2 separate regions of the Homo sapiens genome follow, and region 2 is linked to region 1. The links come from fine-mapping of genetic effects on gene expression. A gene starts in region 1. The other region holds a variant in brackets. All regions are shown on one strand. Distances are between the middles of the regions.

The links. PIP is the estimated chance that this variant, and not a neighbour inherited with it, causes the effect. A credible set is the group of variants that fine-mapping cannot tell apart.
Region 2: its variant is the best candidate, but not a certain one, in a credible set for the expression of FCGRT in whole blood (INTERVAL, PIP 0.70).

What each region holds. Positions count from the first base shown.
Region 1 is chr19:49,511,097-49,514,001 of GRCh38, forward strand. It overlaps FCGRT (Fc gamma receptor and transporter), which reads left to right and starts at 1,565. Exons shown (of 7, transcript NM_001136019.3): 1 at 1,565-1,654; 2 at 2,291-2,377; 3 at 2,786-2,905. The coding sequence starts at 2,305. RefSeq lists an enhancer at 585-1,147.
Region 2 is chr19:49,534,886-49,537,790 of GRCh38, forward strand. RCN3 (reticulocalbin 3) reads left to right here. Exons shown (of 7, transcript NM_020650.3): 4 at 2,148-2,320. Among named protein-coding and RNA genes, the nearest start is that of RCN3, 8.3 kb to the left of the region's middle. The variant CT/C (reference allele first, on the strand shown) is at 1,403.

The sequences.
Region 1 (2,905 bases):
ATGAATCTCTTTCTGTGTATGCATATACACATTCTGTGGATTCTGTTTCTCTAGAGAACCTGAACTACCTGACCAGCAGTTCCACTCCCAGATGTATGCTCAATAGAGCTGAAAACAGGCCAGGCATGGGTGTCTTGCACCTGTCATCCCAGTGCTTTGGGAGGCCAAGGTGGGAGGCTGTCTTGAGCCCAGCAGTTTGAGACCAGCCTGGGAAACATAGCAAGACACTATCTCTGCAAAAATACAAAAATTAGCTGGGCCTGGTGGCAAGTGTGTGTAATTCCAGCTCCTTGAGAGGCTAAGGCAGGTGGAGTGCTTGAGCTTGGGAGGTTGAGGCTGCAGTGAGCCATGATCGCTCCACGGCATTCTAGCTTGAGTGACAGAGCCAGACCCTGTCAAAAAAAAGGAAAGGAAGGAAGGAAGGAAGGAAGGAAGGAAGGAAGGAAGGAAGGAAGGAAGGAGGCAAGGAAGGAAGGAGGCAAGGAAGGAAGGAAGGAAGGAGGCAAGGAAGGAAGGAAGGAAAGACTTCATATTATATGATTCAATTTCTTTGAAATGTGCAGAATAGGCAAATCTATCAAGACAGAAAGCAGATGAATGGTTGCCAGGGGTCTGGGAGCAGCGGCTGTTTAACGGGGACAGACCTTCTGTTTGGGGTGATAAAAAAGCTCTGGAACTCGGATAGAGGTGACAGTTGCACAGCACTGTAAATGTGTTAAATGACAGTAAGGGTAAATATTTTGAATATTTTACCACAATGAAATAAGTGTATGGGAAGCTTTGTAGCAGGAGTGTGGGCGGGGGCTGGTGCCTGGAGGGGCCTTCGAGTGAGGCAGCATTGTATGGGGACCATGTGGTCACTGAAGTCCTAGCAGAAGGATGTGGTTTTTTTTTTTTTTTGAGACGGAGTCTCGCTCTGTTGCCAGTCTGGAGTGCAGTGGTGCAATCTCGGCTCACTGCGACCTCCACCTCCCGGGTTCAAGCAATTCTCCTGTCTCAGCCTCCCGAGTAGCTGGGACCACAGGCCCACCACCACGCTCAGCTAATTTTTGTATTATTAGTAGAGACGGGGGTGTCACCATATTGGCCAGGCTGGTCTCGAACTCCTGACCTCGTGATCCGCCCGCCTTGGCCTCCCAAAGTGCTGGGATTACAGGCGTGAGTCACTGCGCCCGGCCCGCAGAAGGATATTAAAGAGCACCTGCAGGAATTTTTTAAGGGGATGCCGGGGGAAGGGCTTGAAGGAGGAACTAAGGAGGCTTCCAGAAGATTTTGATTAACAGCGAGCGCTAGGGAAGGCCACGGGGATACAGAGGGGTAGGAGGAGGATCCAGAGACCTCCAAGTTGTGGACTCCGGAGGCATCGAGTTCCTTTCCCAGTTTTGTCAAGAATTCCCTGAGCGGCAGACACCCTCAAAGTAAAAAACGGGAACCACAGAGAAGGAAAAAGAAGAACCACAAGCGTTTTGAGAAACAAACAGGCTGGGCCTAGGGCCTGGGGTGTGCCCTGCAACTGGGGGGTGGGGCTGGATGTTCTTGGAGTCAGGGAGCAGCAGCCTCCCACAGGATGTGAGAGAGGAACTGGGGTCTCCAGTCACGGGAGCCAGGAGCCGGCCAGGGCCGCAGGCAGGAAGGGAGCGAGGCTGAAGGGAACGTGAGCCGACCAGGGCCCGACTGAGGGAGGAGGGGCTGGGGGCCTGGAACCCTGGGTCTGAGGGAGGAGTGGCTGGGGGTCTCGACACTGGGTCTGAGGGAGGAGGGGTGGGGGCCTGGATTCCTGGGTCTGAGAGAGGAGGGACTGGGGGTCTGGACGCTGGGTCTGAGGGAGGAGGGAGGAGGGGCCGGGGGGGCCTGGACTCCTGGGTCCGAGGGAGGAGGGGTTGGGGGCCCGGACTCCTGGGTCCGAGGGTAGAGCGGTTGGGGGCCCGGACTCCTGGGTCCGAGGGTAGAGCGGTTGGGGGCCCGGACTCCTGGGTCCGAGGGAAGAGCGGTTGGGGGCCTGGACTCCGGGGTCTGAGGGAGGAGGGGCTGGGGCCTGAGGGGGGCGGAAGGGGCGTGGCGGAGCTCGGGGCCGGGACTCTCAGCCTATCAAGTGTCTGTAATTAATTAACCAACTGAGATCCAGTTCAGGGGTGAAAGTTCTTCAGGTACGAGGAGGGCATTGTTGTCAGTCTGGACCGAGCCCGCAGAGCCCCTCCTCGGCGTCCTGGTCCCGGCCGTGCCCGCGGTGTCCCGGGAGGAAGGGGCGGGCCGGGGGTCGGGAGGAGTCACGTGCCCCCTCCCGCCCCAGGTCGTCCTCTCAGCATGGGGGTCCCGCGGCCTCAGCCCTGGGCGCTGGGGCTCCTGCTCTTTCTCCTTCCTGGGAGCCTGGGCGCAGGTGAGGGCCGCTCCGGGCCAGGGCCCTGCTGCAGGCGGGCGGCGGGAGGCGGCCCCAGGCAGGCAGGGGCGAAGCCAGCGGGACCCGAGTTCCCCGCGAGCCCCTGGCGCTGCCTTCTCCGCTCAATTAACTTTCTCAACGTCTCCTGCTGGGCCTGAGGCTGGGAACCACCTGTCGCCTCTTGTGTCTGTTTCCCTCTCTCTCTCTGGGTCTCTGTCCCCCTCTCTTTCTGGGTCTCTTGTCTCTCTCTCTCTGGGTCTCTGTCCCCCCCCCCCCGGGTTTCTGTCCCCTCTCTCTGAATCTGTCCCCCTCCCTCCATAATAGATTCTTCTCCCTCCCTGGGTATCTGTCCCACTGCAGTCTAGTTCCCCGCCCGTGTGCTCCCTTCAGCTCTGTTTCTGTCTGCAGAAAGCCACCTCTCCCTCCTGTACCACCTTACCGCGGTGTCCTCGCCTGCCCCGGGGACTCCTGCCTTCTGGGTGTCCGGCTGGCTGGGCCCGCAGCAGTACCTGAGCTACAATAGCCTGC
Region 2 (2,905 bases), 24 kb after region 1:
AACCCCAAAGCCAGTTACTCAGCCCCTGACTCTCAGATCCCTCCTTTCTGTCCCAAGTCCCAGCCTCAGTGCCCCACACCCTGCCACACACACAGCCCTCATTCTCTCCCTCCTCTCCTCTCTGTCCCTGGCCCCAGCCTCCCCGTCCAGTCTGTCCTCCACAGGGCTCCGGGGGCGGGGTTCTTCATGCCCAGCACTGACTCTGCCCCTCCCTCCCCCTCCTGGGCCCCCAGGAGACGGTCCCACTCCCCAGCCGGGACGTTTCCTCCTGTGGCTTTGTTTTTCTGCATTTTCTGCACCAAATGGATTTTCTGTGGTTTTCCTGAACTCACCACACTCTTCAAACCTCTACCTTCTGCCCATATTGTTCCCTCCAGTTACAATGCCCGTCCCCTCCTCTCAGTCAAGCCATCTCAGTCCCTGTAAGCTACCCCATCACAGCCTTAGTCTGGGGCCAAAAGGCCCACTGTCAACTCATAGTGGGCCATTCCTGTCTCCACACGCTTGGATCAGTTATTTCTTCTCTCTGAGAATCAATTTTTGCATTCAGAAAGTAGAATACATGGAAAAACCCACTGTATGTGCTTTTTTGTGATGATTAAATGCAATATTGTGCATAAAGAGCTTAGCATATAATCTCTCACAAGTTAGCTAATTTATTGGGTGGATATAATATGTTACATAGCCTGGGTGCCATGGCTCACGCCTGTAATCCCAGCACTTTGGGAGGCCGAGGTGGGTGGATCACGTGAGATCAGAAGTTAGAGACCAGCCTGGCCAATGTGGCAAAACCCCGTCTTACCACAAAAAAATACTTAGCTGGGCGTGATGGTGTGCACCTGTGATCACAGCTACTCTGGAGGGTGAGGCAAGAGAATCACTTGAACCCAGGAGGCAGAAGTTGCAGTGAGCCGAGATCACATCACTGCACTCTGGCCTTGGCGACAGAGTGAGACTCTGTCTCAAAAAAAAAAAAATATATATATATATAGATAGATAGATAGATAGATAGATATAGATATACACACACATACTAATAATATGTTATATAACATATTATATACTTAAATATATATACAAATTATATATAAAGTATCAATATATGCTTTTTTTTTTTTGTGAGGGAGTTTTGCTCTTGTTGCCCAGGCTGGAGTGCAGTGGCGTGGTCTCGGCTCACTGCAACCTCCGCCTCCCGGGTTCAAGCGATTTTCCTGCCTCAGCCTCCCAAGTAGCTGGGATTACAGGCATGCGCCACCACGCCTGGCTAATTTTGTATTTTTAGTAGAGATGGGGTTTCTCCATGTTGGTCAGGCTGGTCTCGAACTCCCAACCTCAGGTGATCTGCCCACCTCGGCCTCCCAAAGTGCTGTGATTACAGGTTTGAGCCACCGCACCCGGCCTA[CT/C]TTTTTTTTTTTTTTTTTTTTTTTGAGATGGAATGGAGTTTCACTCTTGTTGGCCAGGCTGCAGTGCAATGGCAAGGTCTCGGCTTACTACAACCTCATCCTCCTGGGTTCAAGCAATTCTCCTGCCTCAGCCTCACGAGTAGCTAGGACTACAGGCGCCCACCACCATGCCAGGCAAATTTTTGTATTTTTAGTAGAGAAGGAGTTTCACCATGTTGACCAGGCTGGTCTCGAACTCCTGACCTCAGGCGATCCACCCACCTCGGCCTCCCAAAGTGCTGGGATTACAGGTGTGAGCCACTGTGCCAGGCTTCTAAAATTTTTTTTTTTTTTTTTTTGAGACATAGCCTCCCTCTGTCGCCCAGGCTGGAAAGCAGTGGTGCAGTCTCAGCTCACGGCAACCTCCGCTTCCTGGGTTCAATCGACTCTTGTGCCTCAGACTCCCGAGTAGCTGGGATTACAGGCGTGCCCCACCATGCCCGGCTAAGTATTTTTTTGGTAGAGATGGGGTTTCGCCATGTTGGCCAGGCTGGTCTCAAACTCCTGACCTCAAGTGATCTGCCAGCTTCAGCCTCCCAAAGTGCTGCTATTACAGGCGTGAGCCACTGCATCCAGCCTACTGATATATACTTATTAACTCCACAGAAATCTTTGTACCCCAGTAGGATTTACTTTGTCTTTGTTTTAACCTGCTTGGCGTTTCCTCCATTAAAGCTCATCTCACTGAGACCTGTCCTTCCCCAGGTGAAGAATTTCATGACGTGGAGGATGCAGAGACCTACAAAAAGATGCTGGCTCGGGACGAGCGGCGTTTCCGGGTGGCCGACCAGGATGGGGACTCGATGGCCACTCGAGAGGAGCTGACAGCCTTCCTGCACCCCGAGGAGTTCCCTCACATGCGGGACATCGTGATTGCTGTGAGTGGCGGCTGGGGAACCCTGTCCCCCACACCCTTCCGGGGACCCAGGCTTCCGGTTCAGGTCCTGCTTCCCAGCACCGACCTGGGGGCAGGCAGTCACCTGGTTCTCCAGCATCTTGCCGGGGAAGCCAGGCCGCAAACACAGGTCAGAGGACGGTGACCTTTCCCACCTCCACTCTCAGTCCCCTGGGGTCTGATCTCTCCTCGTCTGGCCTTCCCCTCCCTGTGCTCGCATTTGGGGTCCAGGCCCCCAGCCTTCCCTCAGACAGCCACTGTGCCCCACCTTATACAATTTCTTTTCTTTCTTTTTTTTTTTTGAGACATAGTCTCCCTCGGTTGCCCAGGCTGGAAAGCAGTGGTGCGATCTCAGCTCACTGCAACCTCCGCCTCCCGGGTTCAAGCAATTCTCCTGCCTCAGCGTCCCGAGTAGCTGGGATTACAGGGGCGCACCACCACACCTGGCTAATTTTTAGTAGAGACAGGGTTTCTTCATGTTGGTTAGGCTGGTCTCAAACTTTTGACCTCAGGTGATCCGCCCGCCTCAGCCTCCCAAAGTGCTAGGATTATAGGCATGAGCCACCGT